Regions from separate parts of the Homo sapiens genome. Here all the other regions are linked to region 3. The links come from fine-mapping of genetic effects on gene expression. A gene starts in region 3. Each other region holds a variant in brackets. All regions are shown on one strand. Distances are from middle to middle.

Region 1 (10,732 bases), 420 kb after region 3:
ACTCACTATCATGAGAACAGCAAGGGGGAAATCTTCCCCATGATACAATCACCTCCCACCAGGCCCCTTCTCCAACACTGGGGATTACAATTTGACATGAGATTTGGGAGAGGACACAGATCCAAACTATACCAGGCCACAATAACAAAACATCACAGACTGGGAGACTTAAACAATGCAAATTTATTTTCTCACAGTTCTGGAGGCTGGAGGTCCAAGAACAAGGTGTCAGCGGGGTTGGCACCTTGGATTCCTGAGGCCTCTCTCCTCAGCCTGCAGATGACCACCCTCTTGCTGTCTCTTCACAGGGTCTTTCCTTTGGGTGTGTGCTGTACCCCTGATGTCTTCTCCCTGCTCCTTTTTTTTGAGATGGGCTCTTGCAATGTTACCCAGGTTTCATGGACTCCAGCGATCCTCCTGCTCCAGGTTCTGAAATAGCTGGGTTTACAGGTACATGCAACTGTGCCTGGCTTCCTCTTCTTCTTATAAGGGTGCCAGTCATATTGGACTATGGCCGTATTCTAAAGGCCTCTTTTAACTTAATCACCTCTTTAAAGACCTTGTATTCAAACATGGTCACATTCTTTAGTACTGGGAGTTGGGATTTCAACATATAAATTGGGGGAGGGGCACAATTCAGCCCAGAACAAATAAATATATTAGATATGGAACCACCCAGATCAAGATACAAAACATTTCTACCATCTCGAAGGGCTTTTCTGTGCTCACTCCTAGTTGATTATTCCTTCTTAATCCTAAAGTTGTGTGAACTTTTTTCACATTTCTCACCATCGATCTGTTTTTCTTCTTTTTGAGCTTCATAATATGTATTTGTATTCTTTCATAACTAGCATTTGCTGCCTAACATGATGTCTGTGATACTTATCTTTGTTATTGCATGTAGCAGTATTTTGCTTATTTCATTTCGTTGTGTAAATATTATCACAGTTTATATGACATTTGAGTTTCTTCCAGTTTTTGCTATTATGAATAAAGCTACTGTAAGCATTGTTGTATTTGTCTTTTGGTTGACATGACTATTCCATTGTGTTAAATATCTATGCAAAAGAAGAATTGCTGGGCTACAGAAATATGGGTGTATTTAATGTTACTGTACTGTAATAATTTTCCAAAGTAGATATGCCAACATACATTTACACTAGCAAATCAAGTTCCAATTGTTCCACATCTTCATCAACACTTAGCAGTGTCAGTCTTTTTAATTTTAGCCATTCTGGTGGGGATATATGGGTATATGATTAGAGTTTCAATATGTATTCTGTGATGACTATGCTGTTGCCTTTTGTTCATTGAGATATCCTCTTTTGTAAAATGTCTGTCCAAGTCTTTTTTCTATTTTTTAAATTGATCACCATTTTTGTCTTTACTTATTTGTAGAAGTTCTTTATATATTCTGGACGCAGATACTTTTTCAAGATTTGTATTGAAAATATCATCTCTTGGTCTGTGATCTGTCTTTTCCGTTTTTGTTTTTTTTTTTAATGGTGTTTTTCAGGAACAGGCATCAAGATTGCAAGTTTATTGAGCTTACAATCAATAAACATGTGATTTCTTCCATTTGATTTAAAAGGGTCTTTTAGAAATTTTTCTTGGCCATATTTTATCTTTTCTTTTTTGAGACAAGGTCTCACTCTGTCACCCAGGCTGGAGTGAAGTGGCACAATCATAGCTCTCTGCAGTCACAATCTCCTGGGCTCAGGTGATTACCTTGCCTAAGCCTACCCTGTAGCTAGGAATTCAGGTATGAGCCACCACTCCCAGCTAACTTAAAAAATATATATATATTATTTTTTTTGAGGTGGGGTCTGGCTGTGTTGCCCAGGCTGGTCTCGAAATTCTGACCTCAAGTGATACTCCTGCCTCAGCCTCCCAAAGTGCTGGAATTACAGTCATGAGATGCTGCACCCAGCCTATATTTTATTATTTTTAAGGAAGAGATATTGTACTACTTTTATTACTTTTATACCCAAACACAGAAAATTCCAGTGCTATTATAAAAAGTATTAAATTTTTTTTATTTTCTAGTTGTGTAGTACATATAAATAAAATTGATTTTCTATATCAACCTTCTATCCACTGACCTTACAAAATAAATGTATTCTTATAATTTGTTTGTAGATTTTTTCAATTTTTTTACATAAACAATCATGTCATATATGAACAATAATAATTTTACTTCTGTTTCCAAACTTTATAGCTTTCATTTTGTTTGCTTGCTTTATTGTATTGGTGAATTTCTCTAGTACAATCTAGAATTGAAATCACCATTATTATTTGATATTTATTTTGGAGATGCTAGCCATTGCAACTGAAGAAGAGAATAAAAAGAGAAACAAGAAGGAAACAAACTTAGAATTATGTGTGATTGATACAATTATAAATCTAAAAATTCAAATAAAAATAATTCAAGCAATAATAAAGCTAATCACAATAATTAAAAGTCAATTACTTGGCTGGATGTGGTGCCTCATGCCTGTAATCCCAGCACTTTGGGAGACTGAGGCAGGTGGATCATGTGAGGTCAGGAGTTTGAGACCAGCCAGGCCAACATGGTGAAACCCCACCTCTACTAAAACTACAAAAAATTAGCCGGGCGTGGTGGTGCGCACCTGTAGTCCTGGTTACTTGGGGGACTGAGACAGGAGAATTGCTTGAACCTGGGAGGTGGAGGTTGCAGTGAGCCAAGATTGCGCCACTGCACTCCAGCCTGGGCGACTGAGTGAGACTCCATCTCAAAAAAAAAAAAAAAAAAAAAGTCCAGTACTTTACTTTAGAATAATGATTATCTGCTAGAAAGTAGAATGGAGAAGAATATCTCATTCACAATAACTATTCTAGGAATGAATCTAATAAGAAAGCATGAAAATTTAAAATTTCACTGAGTCAAAATTTTTAAAAATGAGTTAAATGAAAAGACATCTTTTGTTTGGATAGATGAATCTATCTATCTATCTATCTATCTATCTATCTATCTATCTATCATCTATCTATCTATCTATCTATCTATCTATCTATATCTATCATCTATCTATCTATATCTGTCTATCTACCTACCTACCTATCTATTTTTTAGTGGGATTAAGTGGTTTATTCAAAGTTATCTGATTAGTAACATTTTTCTAAAGTTTATGTTCCTATGTTACTTCTCTGCATACAATTTTTTTTTTTACTTTAAGTTCTGGGGTACACGTGCAAAATGTGCAGTTTTGTTACATAGGTATACACGTGCTATGGTGGTTTGCTGCACCTATCAACCCGTCATCTACGTTAGGCATTTCTTCTAATGCTATCCCTCCCCTAGCCCCCCACCCCCCAACAGGCCCAGATGTCTGGATGTGTGGTGTTCCCTTCCCTTGTGTCCATGTGTTCTCCTTGTTCAACTCCCACTTATGAGTGAGAACATGCGGTGTTTGATTTTCTGTTCTTGTGATAATTTGCTGAGAATGATGGTTTCCATCTGATGAATCAATATTTTGAAAGAGTTATTTTTGAATTAATCTAAACTATAAAGCAATTCCTATCAAAAATATAAACAAAGTTTTTTGAAGATTTTTGAAATTTGAATGAAATGATGCTAAAATTTATATGACAAAATAAACACGTAGGAAAATATTTGAAAAGAGAAGAATCATGAGGTGGGTTGAGTACATCAGATAAAGTGTTGCTTTAAAGTATCTGAACTTTCTTTCTGACCACAAATAAACAAAAAAGATCAATGAGATAGATGAACAAATCCATAAATAATCTGGAGTAATTATCTGAGTTTAATAATAAAATGATAAAAGTCACATTTTTAATAAATGAGAAAAATATAAATTATTAAATAAATAATGTTGGTAATACTGATTGAACATTTGAAAAACATAAACCTGGATTTTACCCTTCCTTCTTCTCTATTAAGATGTGAATAAAAGAAATCCCAAAATAATAAGCAAGAACATGAATAATACTAATCCAAACATAAACTTGGTATAGGAAATGCCTTTCTAAACTTATTTCAAAGTCCTCAAGCCAAAAGAAAAAGATTAATATCTACATTTTAATCTTAACATTTTCAATTTCTATCAATTTTAACACTCTGCCGTGAAAAAAGGTCAAATAGAAGACAAGCACATATTGGGAAAAAATATTTGCAACAAATACGACAAGGCACCTTAATATAAAAAAAATTCTTCCAAATAAGTAAATAAAAGGTAAGGCTGAGCATGGTGGCTCAAACCTGTAATCCCAGCACTTTGAGAGGCTGAGGCTGGAGCATTCCTTGAGGCCAGGAGTTTGAAACCAGCCTGGTCAACATAGCCAGACCCTATGGCCTCTACAAAAGAAAAATTCAAAAATTAACTGGGAGTGGTGGCATGTACCTGTAGTCTGAGGTACTGGGGAGGCTGAAGCAGGAGGACCGTTTGAGCTTCGAAGTCTGAAGCTACAGTGAGCCATGATTGCACCATTGCACTCTATCTGGGTGGCAGAGTGAAACCCTGTCTCCAAAACAAAAACAGAAACAAAGATATATAACCCAATAGAAAAAAAGTGGGCAAAGGAGTTTATGGAAAAAATATGAGTGCGCAATTCACACCTGAAAAGATACTTAACCATATAATATTTTAAAATACATAAACTGAAGAACAAAGTGTATTTTTTTATCCAATTAAGAATATTAAAAGGTTATGTAAGCCCAAAGCTGAAGGGAACTATGCAGGTCTATATATTGTTGATAGAATAAATTATTACAAACCTTTTGTAGGAAATTTATCAACATCTATCCAAATTATTGCTGAGCATACTCTTTGACCCCCAAATTGAAATTTATCTTACCCATATGCCTGCAAAAGTGTTCAAAGATATGTCTACAGGAATTTCATCATTTTGCTGTAGCATTGCTTTGCTTTTTAAGATAGTGTTATGGGCTGAGCAGTCTTTTCCTAAAATTTGTATGTGAAAACCCTCACTCTCCGCACCTGAAAATGTGACTGTATGTGGAAATAAAGCTTTTAAAGAGGTTGTTAAATTAAGATGAGACTGTTAGTGTGGGTCCTTATCCAATCCAACTGGTGTCCTTGTAAAGAAGAGGAGATTAAGACACTGGAGGCACACCAAGGATGTGAGCAAACAGAGAAAATCAATGTGAGGGCTTAGAAATAAGGCAGCCAACTGCAAGCCAAGGAGAGAGGTCTCAGAAGAAACTCAACCTGCTGACATCTTGACCTTGGACTATTAGCCTCCAGAACTGTGAGAAAATAAATTTCTGCTGTTTAAGCCACCCAGACTGAGGTATTTTGTTATGGCAGCCTGAGCAAATTAATATAAACACTGAAAGTGAAATATTCTCAATGGCTATAAATGGAAGAAAATGTTACCAGAGGTTACGTCCGTGGTTACAGAGAAGGAAAAGATAGAAGGTAGGGAAATTTGATGTTTTAATTTATGCTTTCTTATTTTGTTTATTTTAAAATTTTGAACCTTATTGCTGCTGTAATAAAATAAACCAGCTAATTTTAAAAAGTGATAGAGAATTTGCGTCAACTTATAAAGTCCCAGAAATATGCCCAGAAATCTCCTTTGAGACCTACAAAGCTTCTATTGATTTATTTATCTTTGATTTGTCATTTTTTATGATGTAGGTTTAAAAATAAATTATTTATTTAAACTCTTTTGTTTGGTTCAGTTGCTGGTGATTCAGCAATTTTCTATTGTTCTTCTTTCATAATCTTTGGGTTTATTTCAT[C/T]TTCCTTCCAAAACTTAAGAAACCATGATTTCGTCACTCAAGGATCACATTGGGACATCGGAAAAGTCCTCCAGGTGAAGTTGAGTTATTTATTTCTGAAGAAGACATCAACCAACCTACTGTAATATGAAACAAGTAATAACCATTCGGTTGTAATAGCTCTCTATTTTAATTACACTTTAGGCCAGAAGAGTTAGGGAAAAATATATAGTAGACAGCACTGTTATTGGGCAATGTTCCACTTTAAACACAAATCCACAGCCGTACTTCAAATCTTCTTAGATACATGATTCTCAGATAGTTAAGGGAATAGAAAAATAGTGGAGTCACTAATTACTTGGCCTTAGATGTTAGTATAACTCTAATGCCAACTCTTCCCCCCTTTATTTTAGGAGACTATTGTTGAAGTCAAAGTAACTATCTCATTTTGTTTAAAAATGTGAAAGTGTGAGTTATGTAATAAAGAGACAATGGGAAGTTTGATTAACACAGCTGCAAACTGTTAAGATATTCTTTAAGAAGAGAACACTTATGGAGTAGGAGTGGATGAGATGCAAGAACTGAATGACAGAAAATGTCCTTAAGCCTTGGCATCCTCACACCTTTTCATGCTTGGCTTGCATTGGGTCTACAGGCTTCACTGATGTTATAATCCAATTGAATAAGCATTTCTCTTATGGGTTTCCTATGGATCCGGAGCTTCTGTTAGGTTCTGTGAGGGTAACAAAAGAAGTGTATGACATATATGCCTTGAAGGACATTAGGAGACATGTAGCAACAGTAGCTTTTGGCGGCCTTAAGCAGAGGGAACGCCATCCTTACTGAAGCCCTTGGTCTCAGGAGTAGGAATTACAGAGTAAAAGGACAAGAGAGGAAGGATCACAAGGGCTTGATGGAGATTTTCATCTCAAATATAAAATCCAAAAGGTTCTGAAAACCAAACTATCTTGGGGTTATTTATAATTTGTATTTATCCCACTGAATGCAGAGATATTCATATGTTTTACTGAAGAAATGTTAGTATATTAATTTGAGTATTTTATAGCAACACTTCACCTACCTTCTCCCTCATGGGAAGAAATATATTTCCCTAACGTTGTAAGGGAGGAAACCACCTCTCATATTGTCTTATGCCCAATTTCTGCCTCCAAAGAAAGAAAAAGTAAAAACTAAAGGCAGAAATGAAATCTGCAAGCAGACAGCCTGGTGCCACACCCTGGGCCTGGTAGTTATAAATTGACCCCTGACCTAATTGGTTACGTTATCTATAGATTACAGACATTGTACAGAAAAGCACTGTGAAAATCCCTATCCTGTTTTGTTCCAATCTAATTACCGGTGCATGCAGCCCCCAGTCACATACCCCCTGCTTGCTCAATCAATCATGACCCTCTCACGCACACCCCCTTAGAGTTGTGAGCCCTTAAAAGGGACAGGAATTGCTCGCTTGGGGAGCTCAGCTCTTGAGACAGGAGTCTTGCTGATGCCCCTGGCCGAATAAACCCCTTCTTTCTTTAACTCGGTGTCTGAGGAGTTTTGCCTGCGGCTGGTCCTGCTACAGCTGGACTTAGTCATATGACTGGCTTTGGCCAATGGAATGTGAGGGGAGCTGATGAGAGCAGAGGCATTAAATGTGCTGATGAGATTTGAGTTTTTTGGGTCTTTGGCCTTCCCATTATTCACCATGAGAAGGCCTGCCCCAGGGAATCAGTGATCCTGAAAGAATGAGAAGAAATACAGAACAGCATCCCCACAGAGCTATGAAATAAGAAAAACATGGTTGCTTTTGTAAGCCATCGAGTTTTGGAGTGTTTTGTTATGATGAATTATTGAGGTAATAGCTAGCTGATACAATGCTTTAGATTTTAAAATGCTACCTCAGACTCTGCTGGGGATGTTACATAATATACAGTATGTACACCACATCTCCTTTGTAAACATGCTGTCTAAAATTTTTGGTACTTTTTATTGAGGTATCGTAGTTATACATATCTTGGGGTACATGTGATATTTTGATACACATATGTAATGTGTAATTATCAATCAGGGCAAACGGGGTGTCCACCACCTCAAATATTTATCTTCTCTTTTTATTTGAAACATTACAATTCTTCCCATCTACCTATTTTGAAATATACAATACTGATTATTAACTATAATTTCCCTACTGTATATCAAATACCATAACCTATTCCTTCTACCTAACAGTATTTTGGTGCTTATTAACCAACTTCTCTTCATCTCCACTGGTTTCCTTACAGGCCCTTGGTCAGCACCATTCTACTCTCAACCTCCTTGAAATCCATTATTTTAGCTCCTGTATATGAGTGAGAATATGTGATATTTGTGTGTATGTGCCTGGCTTATTTCATTTAACATGATGACCTCCAGCCATGTTGTTGCAAATAGGACTCTTCTTTTTTATGGCTAATATTCCATTGTGTATATGTAACATTTTCTATATCCACTCATTCAATAATGGACACTTAGGTTGATTCCATATCTTGGCTATTGTGAATAGTGCTGAAATACACATGGGAATGCAGATATCTGTGCAATATACTGGTTTCCTTTCTTTTGGATATATACCTCGCCTTGGGATTGCTGGACAATATGATAGTTTTATTCTTAATTCTTTGACAAACCTTCATACCATTTTCCATAATGGCTGTGCTACTTTACATTCCCAACAATAGTGTACAGCTGTTCTCTTTTGTGGAATCCTCATAAAGATTTGTTATTTTTTGTCTTTTTAATAATAGCCATTTTAACTGGGATGATATTATATCTCATTGTGTTTTTGATTTGCATTTTCTCTGATGATTAGTGATGTTGAGCATTTTTTCATATACCCATTGGTAATTTGTATGCTTTCTTTTGAGAAAAGTCTATTTAGGTCTTTTGAAATGTCTATTTAGGTCACTTTTAAATTGGATTATTTGATTATTTGTTTTTTTGCTATTGAGTTGTTTGAGTCCCTTATATATTCTTGTTAATTCCTTGTTGGATGGGTAGTATGCAAGTATTTTCTCCCATTCTGTAGGTTTCTCCTCACTTTGTCAATTGTTTCCTTTGCTGTGCAGAGCATTTTGGCTTGATGTAATCCCATTTGTCTATTTTTGCTTTTGTTACCTATGCTTTTGAGGTCTTACCCAAAATATCTTTGTACAGATCAATGTTCTATATTGTTTCCCCAATGTTTTCTTCTAGTACTTTTGTAGTTTCAGGTCTTACATTTATGTTTTTAGTCTATTTTGTGTTGATTTTTGTATATGGTAGAAGATGGGAATCTAATTTTATTCTTCTGTATATGGATGTCTAGTTCTCTGCACACCATTTATTAAAGAGACTATCTTTTCCTGAATGTATGTCCTTGGTGCCTTTGTTGAAAATGAGTTAACTGTAAGTGTGGATTTATTTCTGGATTCTCTATTCTGTTATATTGGTCTATGTGTCTGTTTTAATGCCAATTCTATGCTGCTTTGGTTACTATAGCTTTATAGCACAATTAGAAATTAGATAGTGCGACGCCTCCAACTTTGTTTATTTTGCTCAGGATTGCTTTAGCTATTGGGGATCTTTTGTTATTTCCATATGAATTTTAGGATTGTTTTTCTATATCTGTGAAGAATTGTTGCTGGTATTTTGATAGGGATGGCACTGAATCTGTAGATTGCTTTGGGCAGTATGGATATTTTATTTTATTTTATTTTATTTATTTTTTTGAGACAGAGTCTCGCTCTGTCGCCCAGGCTGGAGTGCAGTGGCACAATCTCTGCTCACTGCAACCTCCACCTCCCAGGTTCAAGCAATTCTCCTGCCTCAGCCTCCCAAGTAGCTGGGATTTCAGGCACCCACCACCACACCCAGCTAATTTTGTGTATTTTTAGTAGAGACAGGGTTTCGCCATGTTGGCCAGGCTGGTCTCGAACTCCTGACCTCAGGTGATCCACCCGCCTCGGCCTCCCAAAGTGCTGGGATTACAGGCGTAAGCCACCATGCCAGGCCTGGATATTTTAATAATATTACACCTTCTAATCCATGAACATGCGGTATCTTTCCATTTTTCTGTGTGGTCTCTTCCATTTCTTTCATCGGTGTTTTATAGTTTTTCTATTAAAGATATTTTACTTCTTTGGTTAAATTTATTCCTATGGGGTTTTGTTGTAGTATTGTAAATAAGATTACTTTCTTGATTTTTTTTCAGATTGATTACTGTTAATGTATAGAAATGCTGCTTATTTTTGTATATTGATTTTGTATCTTGCAACTGTACTAAATTTATCTGTTCTAACAGCTTTTTGATGGAGTATTTATATTTTTTTCCAAATAAAAGTTTATATCATCTGCAAACAAGGATAATTTGACTTCTTCCTTTCCAATAAAAAGCCTTTATTTTTCCATAAAAAGCCTTTAATTATGTTGAGGTATGCTTTCTAATTTAAAAAGTAATACCAATTTTAGTTGTAAGTGTGAGAATCAAAAATTTTTTTGAAGTAAAAAGAAAGCAATCAATTACAATGTCACATTAAAAATATAAGTGAATATTTCAGTGCGTTATGGAAAAATATCAATAGAATAATGTGGCAGATTGGAGTAAACTTTATTCTTTATTCATTAAGTTATGCCTAAGCTTTGACAAGATAGTGGCTTAAAAATTATTGTTTTGATTCAATTATGATAGAAATGACTGAACTTTATGAATTTCTTTTCTTCATACTTTGGCTTCTATATGTCTATATGTCTGATGTCTATATGCACATAGGATAGGGAAGTAATTTCTGAATTTACTGGTTTCCCCATGCTGTCTTTTCTTCGTGTTGCTTAATGGAAAAAAAATTATCAGAGTCCAGGAAATGGGTAGTGTTTCTAATGTCTGGTTGAAAAAGCTGAGAAATCAGCTCCAGGTAGGGTGGCTTATGCCTGCAATCCTAACACTTTGGGAGGCTGAGGCAGACAGATCCCTTGAACTCAGGAGTTTGAGAC
Region 2 (10,732 bases), 440 kb after region 3:
CATTCCTAGTTTGGTAAATGTGTCCTCTGGACTTGCAATTCCCATACTTCAAACCAACAAACATTTACTAAATGCCTCTTAAGGCATTGTGCTAGGCATTAGGTTAGACGCTAGATATACAGTAGTGATTAAGAAAAAACAGATCTGAGGCCAGTCATGGTGGTTCACTCCTGTAATCCCAGCACTTTGGGAGGCTGAGGCAGGCGGATCACCTGAGGTCAGGAGTTCGAGACCAGCCTGGCCAACATAGTGAAACCCATCTCTACTAAAAATACAAAAATTAGCTGGGTGTGGTGACGCATGCCTGTAATCCCAGCTACTTGGGGGGCTGAAGCACAGGAATTGCTTGAACCCGGGAGGTGGAGGTTGCAGTGAACCGAGACTGCACCACTGCACTCCAGCCTGGGCATGATCTTGGCTCACTGCAACACTGCAACCAAAAAAAAAAAAAAAAAACGAGAAAAAACAGATCTGGCCTCTGGCCTCACGCATAGCTTACAGTCTAACTGGGCAGAAGATCAATGAACAAGTAATTACACAGCTGAAGAATTTTAAGAAATGAAAAGTACTTAAAAATTTTGTAGTAACATTTATTGACTGAATAAATGGAGAAAAATAAATTGAGAATTAAGCAGCTTTCCTCCAAGCCTCCAGGGCAACAAGGAACACTCCCTTATTTTCCCTTTCCTGCCTTCCTTCCTCATTGCTTTGGGTTCACATTGGTTCTTGTGCCTGTGAAAGAGGAGTTAGATAATTAATCAGCTAAAAATAAGGATTCACAGTTAATGCACTTGGAAAGGGATCGAAAAGGAACTTGGCAAGATAAAAATACAGTCTTGCACTGCATAATGTCATTTTGGTCAATGACAGACTGCCTATAGGATGGTGGTTCCATAAAATTAAAATGGAGCTAAAAAATTCCTATTCGCCTAGTGACATTGTAGGCATCATAACATTGGAGCAAAACACATTACTCACACGTGTGTGGTGATGCTGGTTGCAAACAAACCTATTGTGCTGCCAGTTGTAGAGCACATATGATTATGTGCAGCACATACAATGATGTGCGGTATATAATACTTTGATAATAATAATAAACTTACTGGTTTACGTATTTACTGTACTATATTTTTATCATTATATTAGAGTGTACTCCTTCTATTTATAAAAATAAAAAGTTAACTGAAAGATGGTCTTAGGCAGGCCTTTAGGAGGTACTCCAAAAGAAGGCACTATTATCACAGATGAGAGCTCCAGGTGTATTATTGACCCTGAAGACCTTTTAGTGGGACAGGATGCAGTGGTGGAAGATAGTGATATTGATGATCCTGCCCCTATGTAGGCCTAGGTAATGTGTGTTTTTGTGCTTAGTTTTTAACTAAAATGTAAAAAAGTTAAAAAAAAATGATAAAAGTAGAAAAAAAGCTTACAGAATAAAGATAAAAAAATAAAATATTTGTGAACAGCTGCAAAATGTATGTTTTAAGATATGTTATTACAGAAGAGTCACAATGTTAAAAAAATTGAATTTATAAAGTAGATAAGTTACAGTGAGCCAAGGTTAATTTATTATTAATGAAAGAAAAATATTTTAAAACAAATTTAGTGTAGTCTAAGTGTAGCGTTTGTAAAGTATACAATAGTGTACAGAAATGTCCTAGACTTTCACATTTATTCACTACTCACTCACCAACTTACCCACGGCAACTTCCAGTCCTGCAAGTTTCATTCATAATAAATGCCTTATATAGGTGTGTTATATGATATTTTATTTTTACTGTATTTTCCTATTTTACAGTTTTCCTATGTTTAGATACACAAACATTTACCATTGTGTTACAATTGCCTGCAGTATTCAATATACTAACATGCTGTACAGGTTCATAACCTAGGAGCAATAGACTATACCTTATACCTGAGGTGTTAGCAGGCTATACCATCTAGTTCTGTGTAAGTTCCCTCTATGATGTTTGAATAACAGCAAAATTGCCCAAGGATGCATTTCTCAGACGGTATCCCCATCATTAAGCAATACATGACTGTAGTTACATTTTGGTGAAAAGCTTGTGGCTTACTTTCTTTTCCTTGATATTAACGTATTTGTTGTACAATATATTAAAATTGGGAATACAAAAGGTGTGTTTGTGTGTGTGTTAATCTTTTTAATCACTTTCTATGGGAAGCGAGATTGCATTTCATGTGCACGTGCCAATCTCTCACTGTTGCTCACTGGGAATGACTAATATCATTTTTCTTCCTTCTGGCCTAATGCAAACAAGCCACTGTGACATCCAATTTCTGATTTTTGGTCAATAGAAGGCTCAGATTTCTATTTTTGTATTGCCAAACAATTTGCAGCTTTAAATATTATTTTTGTTTAGTATTCACACATGATAATTTTTTTGGAGGTATCAGTCAAAGGCCAAAGCCTTTTCCACACAATACCACTGACCTTCCTTCAAAATCCATGGATGCAAAAGGACAGATAGTGGAGTGATAATTGGTGAAATAAAGAGGGAGTTGCTCCAGACAGGAGACGAAAGTTGCTGCTATTGAGACCAAGAAATGAAACCAAACTGTTTATCTATTACTGTATAAAAAGCTAACCCAAAAGGTAGTGGTTTAAAACAGCCATATTTTTGCCCATAATTCTCCAATTTGGGCAGAGCATGGTGGTGGCAGCTTATCCCTGCTGTGTGGTGCTGGACAGGGTGACTCACCTGGGCTGGAGAGTCTATGGTGACTTCACTCACACGTCTGGGGCTCCAATGGGGGTGGCTGGAATGTGAGGTATGGCTGGGCTTGTTTCTCTTTATACAGCCTCTCTGTGCATCATGGTCAATGAACTCTTTATCAAACAGCATCCTATTAAATCATTTGATTCTCACATTAATCTCTAAGGTTGTATCTTAAGAACTGAAAAAGAAACGGAGCCCTTTTACTTAGTCTTGTTTTCCCACTCAACCTGTATTTTTCTTGGAACTTATATGTATTTACATATTTCTGTATGCAATTTATTTACTTTAGTTTATTGTAGGTATTCTTATAAACTGTCCTAATTCTGCAGTACAGATACAAAGATAAATATGTGGTTTGTTACATAAATATGTTACTATTTATCTATCTTAAATCAGGCTCAGGGAGGTTTAGTGACTTGATCAAGGTTACATGCCTAACGCATGACAGAGCCTAACTTGGTACTCAGCTTTTCTGAACCTGTGAGAGCTAAATAATAAAATCCTAATCATATTATCTATTTTAGATTTTCTTAAACTCCTAGGTTATAGAAGGATCACATAATTATTAAACAGAGAAAAAAATTGAATATAGCAAATAATTTTTTTTTTTTTGAGACAGAGTCTTGCTCTGTCACCCAGGCTGGAGTGCAGTGGCACTATCTCGGCTCACTGCAACCTCCACCTCCCAGGTTCAAGCATTTCTCCTGCCTCAGCCTCCTGAGTAGCTGGGATTACAGGCACCTGTCACCACACTCGGCTAATTTTTTGTACTTTTAGTAGAGATGGAGTTTCACTATGTTAGCCAGGCTGGTCTTGAACTCCTGACCTCATGATCTGCCTGACTCAGCCTCCCAAAGTGTTGGGTTTACAGGCGTGAGCCACCACACCCGGCAGCAAATAGTTACATACCTTTTTAATTAGGTATAGTCACCATGTTGTACAATAGAGCTGTTGAACTTATTTTAACTAATTTGAACTTACCTAACTGAAATTTTGCGTCTTTTGATCAACATTTTCCTAAGCCCCCTACACTCTCTAGCCCCTGGTAACCACCATTCTACTCTCTACTTCTCTGAGTCCAACTTCTTTAGATTCCACATGTGAGATCATGTGGTATGTATCTTTCTGTGCCTGGCTTATTTCACTTAACATAATGTCTTTCAGGCTCATTCATGTTGTCACAAATGACACAATTTCCTTCCTTTTAAAGACCAAATAGTATTCCATTGTGTACATATACCACATTTTCTTTATTCATTCATTCATTGCTGGACACTTGGGTTGATTCCATATCTTGGCTGTTGTGAATAGTGCTTCAATGAATGTGGAAGTGCAGCTGTCTCTTCTATTGCACATACTGATTTCATTTCCTTCAGATATATACCCAGTAGTGAGATTGCTGAATCATATCATGGGTTCTATTTTCAATTTTTTGAGGAACCTCCATATTTTTTTTTCATAATGGATGTTCTAATTTACATTTCCACAAACAGTGTATAAGGGTTGCCTTTTTTCCACATCCTTGCCAACATGTTATCTTTCATCTTTGCAATAATAGCCATTCTGATAGCTGCGAGGTGATATCTCTCACTATGGTCTTAATTTGCATTTCTCTGTTGATTAGTGATCCTGAACATCTTTTTCATATACCTGTTGGCCACTTATGTGTCTTATTTTGAGAAATACCTATTCAAACCATCTACCCATTTTTGTATTAGATTGTTTTCTTACTATTGAGTTGTTTGAGTTTCTTATATATTTTGAATATTAACCTCTCATCAGATGTATAACAGATAATTTTACAAAGTAATATCTTATTTAAACTTCAGTTTACTTGAATTCCATTCAGTAAATACTTATTCAGCGATTACTCCATGC[C/A]AGGTGCTGATCTGTGTGCTTAGAACACATCTCTGAACAAAACAGATATTCCTGCCCTTGCAGAACTTACTTCCTAAAAGTGACATTTAGTAAACAAAACAACCAAATCATTTTACTGTGGGAAGAAGAATTTGCTAATGTTGTTGTGCAGAGATTGAGCAGGAACTTATAGTGATGATTTCATGGTATTATGAAATGATTTCATGGTTTTTTTGTTTGTTTGTTTGTTTGTTTGTTTTTTGAGACGGAGTCTCGCTCTGTCTCCCAGGCTGGAGTGCAGTGGTGCGATCTCGGCTCACTGCAAGATCGGACTCCCGGGTTCACGCCATTCTCCTGCCTCAGCCTCCCGAGTAGCTGGGACTACAGGCGCCCGCCACCACGCCCGGCTAGTTTTTTGTATTTTTTTAGTAGAGATGGGGTTTCACCATATTGGCCAGGCTGGTCTCGAACTCCTGACCTTGTGATCCGCTCGCCTCAGCCTCCCAAAGAGCTGGGATTAGAGGCGTGAGCCACTGCGCCCTGCCGGTATTAGTTTTTAAAAATATTTTTGTTAAAGAAAAATTCAACTCTGCCAATCTCTACTTAATTGAGAAATCTGTGTGAGCTTTACCCTTGGCTATGTCTCTTTAAACCCTTGAACTTCTCTGTCAATGATTTTTATGCAGATTCACAATTAAAATTCTAAAGTGTTCTTCATGTCCCCACCACTACTCCTCTCCTCTTAGGCTGACCCTGAAAAGACAGACTTCCAATGCTTCATGCATGGCCCTTAATTTTATTCTTACTCTTCACAGTTGAACACAAATATCAGCTTAAGTCCAATAATAATCTATTTGAGATGTAGATCTGCCATTTAGGGGATATCTTTTATTATGTCACAATCACTTTTTTGTTATGGCTTTTCACATATTAGAAGGGCAAATGCGATTAGCTATTCAAATAATAGAACAAGCAAAAATTGCTGCATAAAGATAATGATGCCATCCGAATTGAACCTAGGAATCCTGGCCGAAGGCACCACTAGTTGAGAGTTCAAATTCATGCTCATTGGGTGATGTGTGGAAGCTGATATTAATTTAGTACTTTGAGTGTCAATGTGCAATGTATAAGATTTCACACATTAAAAAAATACAAATTTGAAGCAGGGCACAGTGGCTCACGCCTGTAATCCTAGCACTTTGGGAGGCCGAGGCAGGCGAATCACGAGGTCAGGAGTTCTAGACCAGCCTGACCAACATGGTGAAACCCCGTCTCTACTAAAATTACAAAACTTAGTTGGATGTGGTGGTGGGTGCCTGCAATCCCAGCTACTCAGGAGGCTGAGGCAGGAGAATCATTTGAACTCAGGAGGCAGAGGTTGCAGTGAATCGATATTGTGCCACTGCACTCCAGCCTGGGCAATAGAGCGAGACTCCATCTCAAAAAAAAAAAAAAAAAAAAAAGATAAAAATTTCGAAATTTGAGAACCATCTTTATGAGAACAGCTCCTGATCCTGAAGTTCTTACAATTCAGCTCTGAAGGCCAGATAGATATTTTAAAATGTCAGGAAACAATAAGGCCACAAGGGGAAAAAACAAAGAAATGATACAAAATGATACAAGGACCAAACCGATGAATGGAGTAGGAAACAGGATATTTTGATGCAGATGATATAGTAGGTGCTTGATAACATTACCTCATTTAATCTTCATGACGATACAGTTTTACTAATTAGAATTTTGAATAACATGCAAGGGCCATTAAGGAAATTTCTTATGGACATATAGTTAGAAAGAAAAAAAACCAGTTTGCCTACCTTTAAAGCTCAAATGATGAACATTTAAATTGATTAACAATTCAAATTGCACTGAATTCAATTGAATTGAACATTTTCCAGGTCTTTCCAGTTTTTTCATAAGGCTTTGAAGATACCATGAAGGAATGTACCTGGAATTAGAACCACCAGATTTTGAACCCTGACTGTGCTACTTCCTACTGGTAACACTTTGCATCAGTCAGTTTCACATCTTCAAAATAGAAAGGACGATACCTACCACATATGCAGCCTATGGGTACATACTAGACATCTCTGTGAATGGGGTCAACAAAGTGCTTGGTTCACGGAATGCCCTGAGTAAAAACATGCAAGGTGAACAAGGCCCGATCGTTATTCCTTCTCTGTTTGAGGCTGGAAACAATGGAAAATCAACAGTCATCCCAGTCTGGTTCTTACAGGTTCAAGAAGAAGAGGAATAGTTATCCTAGTCTGGTTCACAGGCTCAAGAGATGCTTGAAACAGCTTTCTAAATGAGGTTTGGGAGTTCTTGTGGATTGCAATTACCCATCTTACTGCTGGACCTCATTAGCACATGTAATTGGAAACTGGCTCTGTATAATAAGGACAACAGGAGTCTCCAGCTCTGAGGCAATTACTGTGGTGTTACTCACTCTCCATCCCCTCATGAACACCCCAGCAGTTGCTCCTGAGACACAACCTCGGAAGCCAGGGAGAAAGAACCGAAATTCTCCCATTACTGTATTTCCTGTGGGAGTCTATGTGGGAGATTTTTGTTTCACACCATGTATTTGTGACATATGGATAAACAATGGCAACATAAAAGATCTTACAGAAATCTTCAATATTGGTTTCCTCAGAACACACATTCTTAATGGGGGACAATGTTGCCGCCACGGAGGTGAAAGTTGGTTATTAGGAAGGTTAAAAAAAATCTTAAATATAAAAATGTTTTGTGGCCCCTCATCATACGTAAACAGATATAAGGCATATATGTGGTATTAAAATTTCGTGGGGAGGGAATGATCAGAAAAGATCTAAAAAGTCTACTTAATAGGCAGAGAGTAGGGATAAAAGCGGGGAAAAAGGTTGAGATAACATGGCCTTAGAAAGAGTGTGAAGTTCTCCAGATCAGTTTTTGGCTCCAGAAAAGAGGCAGAAGATAGCTATTCTTGCTGCTCCATTCTCTGTTACAGATGGTTCTGGTTCATTATGACAATGATTAAAGGGGAGAGTTCTGAAGACAGGCTGCTTGTTTTGAAGCCCAGTTCAGTCAGATAGATCTGTATCATCTTGAGCTGGTTAATTAATGTCTCAATGCCTCATTTTTTTTCATCTGCAAAATGACTAGTGTAATATTGAACACTTCATGTTGTTGTGAGGGATGTAGGACTAAGTGTACATTTTCAAAAAGATAGGAGCAGAAGACATTCTGCCTTTGTGAAAGAGCTCTGGTTCCCTTTAATCCACATTCTCTAGGTGATCAAATCCTTGCAACATAGTTAAAAAAAAAAAACAAAAAACTTTGGGCAGGGTGCGGGGGCTCATGATTGTAATCTCAGCACTTTGGGAGGCCCAGGTGGTAGGATCACTTGAGGTCAGGAGTTTGAGCCTGGCCAACATGGTGAAACCCCGATTCTACTAAAGAAATACAAAGATTAGCTGGGCATGGTGGTGCACATCTGTATTTCCAGCTACTCAGGAGGCTGAGGCAGAAGAATCACTTGAACCTGGGAGGTGGAGGCTACAGTGAGCCAAGATCGCACCAATGCACTCCAGCCTGGGCGACAGAGTGAGATTCCATCTTAAACAACAACAACAACAATGACAAAAAAAAAAAAAATTGACAATTTTCAGAAATAGAAATATAGAGTAGCTAGAAATAGAATATATGGTTGGGGCGGCAGCTCACTCCTGTAATTCCAGCATCTGGGGACGCTAAGGTGATCCCAGCCTCAAGGAATCCCTTGAGTCCAGGGGTTCGAGGTTATAGTGAGATATAATCACACCACTGCACTCTAGTTGGTGACAGAGCAAGACCCTGTCTCTTATGAACAACAACAAAAAATACAGAATATAGAAAAGAACAGACGTAGTATATATTTCCATAACATGAAGGGTTCATTCATGTTAGTATTTTGTCATATGTATGCTCTATCTTTATTGTATAAAATTTAAAATTATGCAAGTTATATATATATATATTTACACACACACACACACACACACACACACTCCCTTTGTTCCTTCTATACTCCCAGTCCTACCATAATGAAGCACAGTTTTTGAAAGTGCCGACTGACTGCCTGGTATGATTTACTGAGTGATGTTCTTTCTGAACGGGTAGACTGAGGGACCAGCCATCTCCAGATTCATAACTCTCTACCCAAACAAGGTAAATGTTTCATTCAGATGAAGGCCAAACTGACATTTTCTCCATTAATTGGAACAACATTTCTTATGCACCTATTATATGCCAGACATTTTTGAACTGGGAGCAAAACTGTAGCTCCAGGCCTAGACATTAGTTTTTCAAAATGAAAATCCAGGTAGCTGGAGTGAGTTAAGTCAGTCTTCATACTTGAGGTGACGTTCCAGATATGTCTCACAAATGCTAATGGATAACTCACTTCTATTAAAAACAAATCCTAAAAGCGAGGTGTGATGACATGCACCTGTAGTTCCAGCTACTCAGGAGGCTGATGTGGGAGGATCACTTGAGCCCAGGAGTTCCATGTCAGCTTGGATGACATAACAAAAGCCTGTTTCTAATAAAATAAAATAAACCCCAAATCTCATGGTGGCATTGGAATTATTTGCAGACAACTCAGTCCTTTTGGCTTTCAAAGTAGGTCTCAGCAAAGGAAGACGCAAGCTACTGGTTTAGGATTAAACCTGGGGAATCAGACTGGTCTGGACACTTGGTTTGCCAAGAGGCCTGGTAGTGGAGAATTCTGTGACTGGCAAATGCCTAGGAGGCAAAGGAGTGAAAGTCTTGAGTTCTGAGAGAGACAACCTTTGGGTTCCTTAGGCACTAGGCAGTGGCCCAAGGCACTGGGATCTTATGTAAATGGCAGAGCGCCCCAGGAGCTTCAGGTATGCTTATCTGCTCATCTAATGGAGCCAAGGAGACAATCTGTTTAGATAACAGGTTGCAAGAGATAATGGACTCTGCTGGGAATGGCATGTTCCCTCCTGGGGGGTAACCCTTAGATCTTGGAATTTGGCTGAGAGAAGGAGGCAATGCATGGTGCTCCTGCAGAGGTCTGAAAAACAGCTGTGGAGTGCCTCACATGGTTTTCATCATGGCCTGAAAGTGTTCTCTCTCTCCATTGCCCGCCCCACCCCCCAACCCATTTACTCTAAAAGTAAAAATAAATATGTTAAATATTTTGGAACCACCCACTAAATAGTAATTATAGATGGTAGTAACTAATTACACTATTATCTATCACTTTTTAAGTGCTTCTGGATGGCCAGACCCAGTGTCAGGCTGCTCTCATGACCCTGAGAATCCAGAGGAGGGGTCTCCATGTGACACATAAGACTTGCACAGGTAGAGAACTTCATTCTTTCATTCACTTGCCCACTATTCGGGAAATGTTTATTGAGCCTTTTCTATATTCTAAGAAACTGTGCTGGTGCCTCAAAGAGTTCATAATTTCCCACAACAAACAAGGGGAAGTGATATAACTAAAAGTTACTTTGATTTTATTTTATTGAAATTGGTGGAGAAGGATGGCCTCTATACCAGAGAGGAAATGCTGCGGCACTGGGTTTTTAGCACAAGTCAAAAGAAAAAAATCTCCTTAAACAAACTCTGGGGTGGAAGGAGGTGGGATGGGGAATATATGGAGCTAAATGTATTTTTGGAACCTGCAAAGAAGAAAAAAAACAAAACCAAAAAGCCCAACTTAGTACTTCTTTTTCCAGGGTTCTTTCCTTGGTCTGTTTCCTAGCATCTTGTGCTAGCCTCTATCTTAGAACAGTATTTGTAAAATACTTACTTGTCTGTTTCCAACAAACTGCAAACAGATTATAGTCAGACTCCTTGCAGGTAGAGGATATTTTATTTAACTTTTTTTCTCTAGTACCTGAAGCATTTTAAAAAGCTCTTTTAATTTGAATGAAATGAAAAGATGACTGACTGAATGAATAAATGGATGGATGAATAGATGGTTGGAAATCTCTTTTAATTTAAATAAAATGAACGGATGACTGACTGAATGAATACATGAGTGGAAGCATGGATAGATGGATGGATGAATGGATGGATGGATGGATGGATGGATGTATGGATGGATGGATAGATGGATGGATTTCTCTTAGGTGATTCTCCTG
Region 3 (10,732 bases):
TTTTCTCCTAGCAGAGGCAATCCTACTCCAGGATGCATGTGGTTTTGTTTGTTTAGCAGATGTGAGCCTCCCATTTGCCTCCTTGCCCAGGCACTTTTGTGCAGTGAACAACCTGTATAACAGTTCAAGGTATCCCTGTCAAGAAGTCACAATCCATTCCTTCTGCTTCTTGGCCAGACATCCAACCCTCCCATGACAACTTATCTGCACAGCCAATCATGACCTTATATACCCACATGAAGCCCCATGGTCTAATGTGCAGGCCATGGTCTAATAATTCAGAAGATTTCATTAGTCTAGGCACAGCTCAGGCACCTAGTCTAAAGGTTACACCTTTCTAATTTGCCTGAGATTCTGGTTAAACTTGGTATGATGATGTTATCTCAATAAGGTCTTCAATAAGCCTCAATAAAGTCCAAGAGGCTTTTAGATTTTGATTCCTCTTTCCACCCTTAGATTTAGCTCATGTTGGGATTTAATGGATTTCAGTTTGAGTCTTCATTTGAGAAAAAACCTTATGTTTTTCCTCTGCAATAATTTATCCCCCCAAAACAACACAAAATTTGAGGTAACTGCAAGCTTGGGGTCTGAGTCAAAGGGTCCCAGTGGGGAGTTAAGGGTTTAGTGTCCAGTGGTCAAGGACGTCTTGGCTAGTGCCATCTGAAGCTAAATAAAAGCCTGATTATTTCACATCAATGAAGTTAAGATTCTGCCTCCAATGGGCTCATGTGAGTTTGCACAAAGCCATTCTGAATCAAGACAATTCTCTACACACAATGCAAGTGCAGAGATGGCAACTGATTCAGACTTCACTCCAGTGAGCATGTGTGATCACGCAAACTCAAGTTCAACCAGAGCTTATACTTCTCTCTTCGGTCAACTAAAGGGGATCCTATGTCAATTACATGACCTTGCCTGCAAGGGGAGTGGTGGCCTACTGTGTCAGAAAGCATACAGAATACAAAGCCTTCTGACTCTCTGGGCCCAAAGTCACCCACTTATTATACAATCAATGAAACTGAAAATTACAGAAGATTTTAGCAACCAATCTCTTAGAACTTCTAGATACTAACCCTCTGGCAGAACTGAAAGTATTAATTCTTAACAGTCTCCAACACTCCAGTTTTTTTTTTTATTTTTTTAAGATGGCATCTTGCTCTGTTGCCCAGGCTTGAGTACAGTGGCACGATCTCGGCTCACTGCAAGCTCTGCCTCCCAGGTTCACGCCATTTTCCTGCCTCAGCCTTCCAAGTAGCTGGGACTACAGGCGACCGCCACCACGCCCGGCTAATTTTTTGTATTTTTAGTAGAGACGGGGTTTCATCATGTTAGCCAGGATGGTCTCGCTCTCCTGACCTTGTGATCCACCCGCCTCGGCCTCCCAAAGTGCTGGGATTACAGGCGTGAGCGACTGCACCCAGCCAACACTCCAGTTTTTATTATACAGTAATTCTCTGAAATGCAGACCCATTAAAAGAAGACAAAAACCCTCCTTGTCACAGGATGGTAACCAGACACTTCACAACTGAGCACTTTTACGACACCCAATAAAGACTAACATGATAAACCAAACACTTAAGTGACATCAGATATGATTTTCAAGAGAGACTCTCCAATAAATGGAATAATCTAGCTACAAGTTATCTTAAGTCAAGTCACCTCCACCATCTGCCCTGGATCCATGCTACCTGTTAACTACTCTCCTGTCATTCCTAAGGGAGGAAAGTGGGGAGGTCAGGATCTGTGGGTATGTGCTGGTTCTAGAACAGGATTTAGCGAGTCAGTTCCTTCATCTGTACTATCCAGACCCCCTTTGGAAGTCCAGGGATGAAAGAGGTAGGCTTCACAGGGTCACCAAGGACTGGGCCTTTGTGTGCGCTTCAGGCCTGCTGGGTCTCAGCAGCCATTTGGAAGTGTTAACTGCTATGGCTAAAGAGTGGCAAGCCTGATGGAGAGGCACTGATGATTCTCCTCAGGAAGGTCACCTAAAAGGAGTCTCCTCCTCATGTTTCTCTTGATTAGTTTTATAGTTTTTAAGCAAAACTGACTCCATAAAGCCCACTTCACTCTCACCTCTGGCTGGATGCACCTCCATCTCCGTGCAGAGGGCATGAGATGTGGAGTTAAGATGCTTCTGGGTCAAATTCTGTCCTTGCAACTTGAGCAAGGTTCAGACCTTTAAGGAACCTCAGCTTCCTCCTCTGGGCTGTTGTGACAACTGAGCAAGACTGTATACGGGAAGAGTTTAGAAAGGGCTCAGGATATATAATATATACAATTGTGCTGTAATTAGTTTTTATCTATCCAACCTTCCTGTTAAACTAAGTGCACCAATATCTGCCTCATTACTGTCTTCCAGGTGTCTGATATACTGAAGGTGCTGTAAAAACGCAGCTCATCAAGGCAGGCCTGGATCTGGGAAGTCACAACTTCCATAAAGTCAAGGTTGGTGGACTAGGTCTATATGCAGATCCTAAAAACCCACTGGTAGACTTTTCAAATATTCTTCATGAAGATCAAACTACAAGCTTCTGAAAGGCCTTCTCTTTTACCGCTAAACAATTCTCACTGCAAAGGTTTTGACATTTAACCGAAGGACATTCAACTGCCATAAAGTTGGTGCTTTTTCCAAAACAACAATAAAATCCTGCTATTTGTAGTTAACAAGCCAGATTTGTTTTTTAGTAACTATTACGCAAATTTTTTTTAGTATTTGTAGTTAATAAACCAGATTTGTTTAGTAACTATTACACAAATGAATTATATTTTAGTATATATATAGGCGCATTGTGGAAAATAGGGGAAAAGCAGGTTGGGGGTGGGAGAGCACCATAATCCCATCACCAATTTGTCTGTATTTTCTTCTAGGCTTTTCTTATGGTTTAAAAATAATTTTTAAGCTAGCTGTAATTGTAATAACACAATGTAACTGTGCATACTGCTTTTCCCCATTTTAAACTGTAACAGACTTCATGTATTACTGATTTTTTAAAGTCTCTAATAAAAAAGAAAATGGAATTGAGATTTGGAAGAATTAACTTGTTTAACAAATTAATATTGCAAACCATTTCACATTTAAAAGACAAAATGATGATTGTCTAATTCTCTTACTTTTTAAGTACTATTTGGCAGGACTATTTAAATTACTGAGCTTTTTTTAGATTTGGGGGAAATATTAAAATTTTGTATAGCTGTTTTCCTGTTACAAAAATAATGCATGCTCATTATACAACATTTAGAGAAAATTTCAATAATTTAATGTTAACATTTATTGAATGTGGACTATGCACCAGGCACTATTCCAAATGCTATATACATAGATTAGCTCATTTATTCCTCACAACACTTATTGAAGCATAGATTAAGTAACTTGCTCACAGTCTACTCACCTAGAAGTATGAGCCAGAAATCATTATGTTATGTTCTAGGAGTGAAACGAATCAATAATTTACTCAATCAAATGCTTCAGTTGTTTCAGAGCATAATGTCATAGGCAAGAAACAATTAATAATCACACTGTACCCTTTATAGTTATTTAAAATTATTATAAACCACATCTCTGTGTCCCAGTGGAGCAATTAGTAAAATGAGAAATCATCTGTGGCATGAGCTAAGATCCTGGTTCAGCCCAATTCTGTGCACCTGACGTGCATTAGGACAAAAACAAGAAGCTTTAAAGGGTTTGTTTTAAAGATGGAGGCTTTTTTTTTTTTTTTTTTTGAGACAGAGTTTTTGCTCTTGTTGCCCAGGCTGGAGTGCAATGGCACGATCTCGATTCACCGCAACCTCCGCCTCCTGGGTTCAAGTGATTCTCCTGCCTCAGCATCCCGAGTAGCTGGGACTTCAGGCATGCGCCATCACGCCTGGTTTATTTTGTATTTTTAGTAGAGATGGGGTTTCTCCATGTGGGTCAGGCTGGTCTTGAACTCCCGACCTCAGGTGATCCGCCCACCTTGGCCTCCCAAAGTGCTGGGATTATAGGTGTGAGCCACAGCGCCTGGCAAGATGAAGGCATTTAAAAAATTTTTTAGATTTTAGGAAATGAGTCAACAATGTGATGAGTAGATTTCCTGAATTAACTGAACACCCAATCTCATGAAAGTTTACAAATAAAACAACGACTCACAATCAGCCTAACACTTCTTATGGCTTATCTGTTGGCCTTGGACATCAGCACATGCAAAAGTAAATAACCGGATACCCTTGGGTCACATGTTTTCATACTTTGATTAAGAATTACACTTGGTTAAAGATGAATACTTCTGTTCCTGGCTTAATTTCTTACCTAGGGCTAATAAACACAACTATTTGAAATATAAATTCTCTTTAAATGTAAAGGATAATGCAATGTTTCTGACTGTCAAAATTACTATGCAACTGTAACTTTAGCACTAAAAGCATATTAAAACTATTAATCCTTTAATCATAATTATTCATATTGCTGTGGTAGAAACATCACACATACACACACACAAACACACACACACCAGTTACTTTCTGTAGAATTTGAAATTGCTCTATCTAGCATTTCCGGAAGGTTCAAGCTGCCACCCTGCAATTTATCCAGTAGCCTGCTGCTTGAACAAGCTAGATAAATATCTAATAATTTTGACCATGTACTGCGTGTTAAGTCCAGTTTAAGTGTTTTCCAAAGACAAAGTTTTCATATACTTTCTGTAAAGCCCTACAGATAGAGACCATTATTATCCCCATCTTATAAATCAGACTGAAAAAGGTTAAATAGCTAATATTTTCATCTAAGTCTGTCTGACTCCAAAGCCAACACCCCAAATCACTGTTAAACAAGCTTCTCTTCCAAGTTAGGGCTCAGAAAAATTTACTTGCTTTCACAACTTGCCTTCCTAGGTTAAGCTTAAGCTGACATAAAACTCCAAAACAAAGCAAAACACAATAAATCACATAATTCTAATTTTAAAAAAAACTAATTTGATATTGGCTAACCACTTCCTCAAGTTTTCTGACCATGAAGCCCTTTGCTCTCACACTTTAATAAACCACCGATATTCTCTAACAAGTGACAACACAAATCCACAAATCTAATTGTTAGAGAGCTTTCAAGTAAGACTGGAGCTTTCTGGACAGGAAATTTTTATAATTCTATTTTTTTCAGGCTCTTGTGAAACACAGATTCACATTTTCATATATTTCTACACAAATCTAAGTGCTGTGTGCCCTGTTGGGGGTTCGATATCTAGTAAATTACATGAGTTAAATACAGCAAAAATAGGACTGCATTATTTATAAGGTCTAACGACGCAGTAGACTTTTCAGCATTTTTTGGACTTAAACCAGGGCTTTACGGCGCTGGTTAACTATTAGAGAAGGCAAAGGGACTGAACATTTTATCTGAAAGTCCTTTTATCACTTAAGACTCTGTAAAATTTTTGATTACTTTAAAAATTGTGTGTGTGAATAACGTTAGTTTACTAGAAAAGGGGCTTGCTAGTATATATAATTTGGTTAAAAAAACAAAAACAAAACAAAACAGCTCCTTACTTGAATGTGATTGTTTTGGCAATAGTAAAATTCAATCCCGTCGTTCTAGCGCTGCCTGCCTTCCTGGTTCTCCTAGGTGAGGGCCGCCATCCTGCGATAATTTACTTCGAGAGCTGCGAAGCGCTGGCAAGGGTGCAGTCTGGTGACTAGCACTTTTAAAAACAAAGCCAAACTCCGCTTTTAAAATAGAGAAGGCACAGACGCAGACCCTGCCTCTGACGACATCCAAAAGATTCATTATACACAGCCTATTCAGGCGAAGCTACAACCGCCCCAGGAAATATAAACTGTGTCGGCAAAGACAGCAGGGGGGAGAGGAAGTAACTGATGGGAAGGAAGCTAATCATGTGAAGTTTGTCCAACTCCACACGGTCTAATAAATTCCCGTTTGTTTCCGCTGGGAGCAGCCATTAAACGCGCCCTGACACGTGGGCGCAGGAACCTCCCTTCTACCTCTGGTGTTCAGAGATTTCCTTCTCGACCCACTTGTTTGTATACAACCACGCCCGGCAGGATGACCACCAGATGACCGGCCGCAGCAATGCCTCCACTCAGTCCCAGTTGGGCAAAGTTTCACTCCACTGCGGCGACGTGAACAAGAATCACGGCTTCCTTATCGTGAGTTATGAATGATTTAAGCCAAGTTTACAGGACACACAAAGCGAGGGACGAGTGAGTGACGGGAGGTGCTAAGTGACAGCGTTTTAAAGTTAGCTTTAATTGATATGCCCTAATTAAAATGAAAAACAGAATTCACCCTGCCCCACGGGATAACTGTCGGGGCAATAATTAAAAAAAAAAAAATCACCCAAGACTAAGCCTCAACCTCCCCCTTACCACTTGCAAATACAGTCTGCAGAAAAGCAGCCTCGGGTCCCCACTCGGGGGTCCCTCGCGGGGTGCGTCATATGGGCTCTCCCCTCTGCGACCCGCTATTTCCCTGCTAGACCCCCAGCGCCCAGCGGATTCCAAGGCTGCGCTCCCGCCGGCTGGTCCCGGGAGGTAGAAAGTAGGCAGAGGGGCGTGGCGTCCCTGTCGCCCCCACATGCCAGCCCTCCTCCAACGCCTGACACCACCACAAGCCACGGCTGGGAACACTGGGGGCCTCCCAACCCGGCGCGGGGCGCACGGCCGCAGGCTGGCGAGGAGGCAAGCGAGCTCAAGGGGAGACCTTTCCTTCCACCCCCAGCCCTAGCCCCAGCCACAGCCGTGGGGGCGGCTTCCCGCAACCTCGGGCGGCCGCCCGTCGAGGGCGCGCGCGCCGTTTCTGCCTCTGGGTCTCGGTGTCCCTTGGCCCCTTCCTCCCCCTCCCCCCGGTCTCCGGCGCCCAGCGCCCAGACCAGTCCCCGCCCTCCAGCAGGACACTCTTCCCTCCTTCCTTCCTTCCTCCGCTCCCTCCCTCCATCTCGCTTCCCAGCACCCGGGACTCGGAGGCGGCCCCCGAACTCGCTGGCCGACGCCCCGCGCCGCGCCCCGACCCCGCGGGGACCCGACTCACCACCCGCGCCCGCCGCTTGGTACTCACCCGCCTGCCGGTGCGCTGCCCCGCCGTCGCCGCCGGGACTCGGTCTCTAAGGGCTCCTGGAGACGGCTCCGACCTCTCCTCCTCCTCCTCCTCTTGCTCCTCCGGGCGCCGGCTCCGCCTCGCTGGGGTGGGCGGGGCGGCGGCGGCCCCGGGCTCCTTCCTCCGCGCCGGGCCCTGCCTCCCGCCCGGACGCCCTGGCTGTGCTGTCCCGGGCCGGGGAGCCCGCGTTGTGGCCCCGCAGGAGGAGGGGCGAGGCCTGGCCTGTGGAAGCTCGGTGGACGTCTGGTCGTCTTTGGCCATCCCCCTTCCTCTAATTCTCATGGAGGACCTGAAGTTCTAGGACTTGAGGGCCCCCACTCTACGACCCGCCCCCGCGCGGGGCCGCCCTGACTCCTCGCAAGTTTCCTTCGCGTGCGAACGCCTCGCTTGCCCCTGTGCCAGCGGTCCCCAGGGCTGTGAGGATGAGCGCTGCCAAACCCCTACACGAAAGTTTGGTTCTGTTCCAGAAACTATGGAGGAAAACACGCATAGTAACATTTAAAGGGCCCTGGGGCCACGGAGAGAAGTTTCCCAGAAAGTGGAGGTATAACTGCGGATTATAGAATTTGTAGTACATCCACCCACCATGAGCTTCCCGTCCATCTGCCCCGACCCCCTGAAATTTGTTTCCGAATGTCCAGTACCTGGCAGAGTTCTGCCTAATGAATTAATGGGATTTGGTTGGTCTTTTCTGGAAGGGTTCAAGGTCGGGTAAATGGAGGAGCCATTTCCGCTTCCACAGATTTTGTACTATTCCTTTGGCCATTCGACAGACATTACCAAGCACCCGCTGTGTACCAACTGCGATGCTAAAGGTGATGGGAGAGGTACAAAGATGAATCAGACAAGGGGCTTGCCTTCTTGGAGTCCAGAAAGAGTAAAGAAGCTGGATGTTCAGAAAACCACTCAGCGGACTTCTAGAGTATTCCTAGGTAGCCGCTTTCTTGTTTGACAGGGTGGAGAGAAAAGAGGTGAGGCCAAAGTAGGTCACTTAGAACCAGTGTGGGCAGAGTCCACACTTGAAATGGAGTCTGAAAGCATTGGTGAGGGATGTCTGTGTATTGAGTTTCACCAACTGAGGACAAGTGGGCCCTGGGGAATCTGGGAACTAGGGACTGCAGTCAGGGCATTATATTCCCTCTTGCTTTCCTTCTGACCCCTAAGCAAGTTTCAGGTTTAGTGAAATCATTTGCACATGTAGAAGAGGTGTCACAGGTAGAGTAGGTGTATGAATGCATGCCTTGCCCCAGGAGTGTGGTCTTAGCAAGCTGCGGATGGCGGTGGTTTGTGGGATGCAAGCCACAGACTGCCAGAGGGGTCTTTATTTCCTGTTCTGTTCAGCATTAGGAAATGCTTGACTGATTCACAAGTACTAACAGTTCAAATGATACACCTGAAACAGAACAGCTTGACACCACAGGGACTGAGAGGGTGGCATACTGGAGTTTGTATTTTTTGGCCACAGACCACAGAATAGACTCCTCTAAGCTATGCTACTAATTTTCCTTCCTGGGACACTTTATAGTTTAATAAGTGCTTTCATGTACTTACTCTTACTTTTCTCTCATTAGTCTCTTGAAAAAACCTGGAAGCTGGAACACCACATATTGCCACCAGTAACTTAAGCGGCTTGTCGAAGGTTTTTCTAGTTGAGTGCTGTTCAAAGTGTGGTTCATGGAATAGTGACAGTCTGCAAACCGTTACCCATCTACAAAGGGATGAGCATAGAAATTGAAGATGAGCATGTAGAAACTTACAGCAATTTGACAGAGTAATTTTATGTCTGTTAAATCGTTTAAAATGCAGCTTTGTATTTTATGTCTATTTCATTTTTCTTTTATGTGGAAAGGCATCAGCCTGCAACAGATTGAAAATAAAATATCACAGATAGTTTGAGAAGCACTGATCGAGATAGTATTAGGTTAGTACAGAAGTTATTACCGCAATTACTTTTGCATCAACCTAATAGCAAGGCAGGAATGATAAGAGCTAATACTTAACCAGCACTTTCTGCGTAGCAGATGTTGCTTTAAGTGCTTTACATATATTAAACCTTTTAATCCTCCTAACAACCTAAGGACGTAGTCACAGGAAGGTTAGGTCTTACAGAGCAAAACTGGCAGAGCCAGGATTCAAACCTTGGCTGGCTGACCCAATACTTTGTGCTTTTATCGATGCCCTTGATCCAGTGTCCTTTCTACTCTGCTGATGTTTCCCAAACTTAAAGGATTCACATTCCATTTTCATACAACTGTAATTCCTATTTTTTATTTATATTTCTTATTGACTCACTTTTGTTATTTTGTACATATATTACCCTGGCAGTTAGTAACTCCAAGCATGTAATCATGGGTTTGAAAAGCAAGCATCAATCTTCTACTCTAGTTTATATTAAAGTACATGCCTAATTCCAGCACTTGCTGCCAGTGCTTGGCCATACCCCCTCCAGTCCTTTTCCAGTTTCGTGCACACTGGTTCCAGGCGTGCTTTCATTCCCTCCTGCCAGCACCCACATCATATTCTCAGAGTACCAGCTCCAGCTGCAGGATTTGCTTTGCCTGGGCACAGGGCAGCTGGAAATGTGTAGAATTAATGTCCTCCACCTCCATCCCTAGCCTTTAGCCAGTGTGGAGGAATAAATATTTCAGCTCCTTTGCTCATATTTGTGATAACTGGGTGGATCTACATTGTCTACAGAGTTCCCTATGCTGTTGGGCCAAATTCCATGAGCCTGTTTGGTTTCTTATTTTTTTTTTTCTTTCTCTAGCCTTCTTTTAACTTTTTTTTTTCCTTTTTTTTATGTTCTTGCTATAAAATAGTTAATGAACTATTTTCTACCCCCTCACCCAGTGGCATTCAAAACAAATAAATCAGTTTCCTATGAAAGAGTGTCAGTGGAGTGGAGTGAAATTTATGCTTTATGAGATAAGGTCTTTGGGATTAAGTCCTGGCTTTGCCGTTAACAAGCTGTGTAAATTTGAGACAGTCACTTAACTTTGCTGGGTCTCTGCTTGTCTTTAAAATAAAGGGATTGTAAGAGAATGGCTCTAAAGTCCCAATTCTATGGAAATTAGATTTTAGTTTTAAAAAGTGGCTTTCTTGGCCATTTAATCCCTCACGAGACAAGCAAGAGAAGTGGTTTTATAATTCAGGACAGTTGTTTTTTTTTAACGAATTGCAATTCATATGTCAATCTACTGTGAATTTCTATTTAATATTCAATAACAACACTGTAGCTAAAGGATGAGTCAGAAAGAGATGGTGAAGAAATGAAAAAGTGAGGCAAATCAGTCAGTCTCTCGGTGATCAGGTCTCCACAGACTTCAGAACAATTTTTTATTTTATTTTTTTAGAGATGGAGATCTCACTTCAGAACAACATTTTTGGGATATCAGCTTTGCTCCCTGTGGATTTTATTGGTCCTATTGCACATGGCTTCACTCTTTGTCTGGACCTGCCCTGGAAGGCAGGGAGAGCTCCCTCCTTTTGAGTAGGTCACCTGGGAATAAGTGTCTTCCAAACTGGTTTTTCTGCTCAGTCGGAGACTGCCATATTTCCATGTAGAAGTTAGGTCAGGGAGAAGCACCCACAGTCTTGGAAATCCCCAAGTAACCTGTTGAAACGTGTATTGCCATAGGCAGGAGCTATGAC

Alleles and levels. Alleles are on the strand shown, and positions count from the first base shown. SD is a standard deviation of normalised expression in the study named. Not every link is listed here.
For the expression in whole blood of the gene that starts at base 5,987 in region 3, C is the low allele of the variant in region 2 and A is the other (small effect, 0.35 SD a copy in GTEx).

Evidence for each region.
Region 1: its variant is fine-mapped to the expression of GNG12-AS1 in whole blood (GTEx, PIP 0.94).
Region 2: its variant is fine-mapped to the expression of GNG12-AS1 in whole blood (GTEx, PIP above 0.99).

The regions. Positions count from the first base shown.
Region 1 is chr1:68,249,712-68,260,443 of GRCh38, forward strand. No RefSeq gene overlaps it. Among named protein-coding and RNA genes, the nearest start is that of WLS, 23 kb to the left of the region's middle. The variant C/T (reference allele first, on the strand shown) is at 5,747.
Region 2 is chr1:68,267,084-68,277,815 of GRCh38, forward strand. No RefSeq gene overlaps it. Among named protein-coding and RNA genes, the nearest start is that of WLS, 40 kb to the left of the region's middle. RefSeq lists an enhancer at 9,258-9,885. The variant C/A (reference allele first, on the strand shown) is at 4,617.
Region 3 is chr1:67,826,302-67,837,033 of GRCh38, forward strand. GNG12-AS1 (GNG12, DIRAS3 and WLS antisense RNA 1) reads left to right here and starts at 5,987. Exons shown (of 10, transcript NR_040077.1): 1 at 5,987-6,135. It overlaps GNG12 (G protein subunit gamma 12), which reads right to left and starts at 7,166. Exons shown (of 4, transcript NM_018841.6): 1 at 7,043-7,166.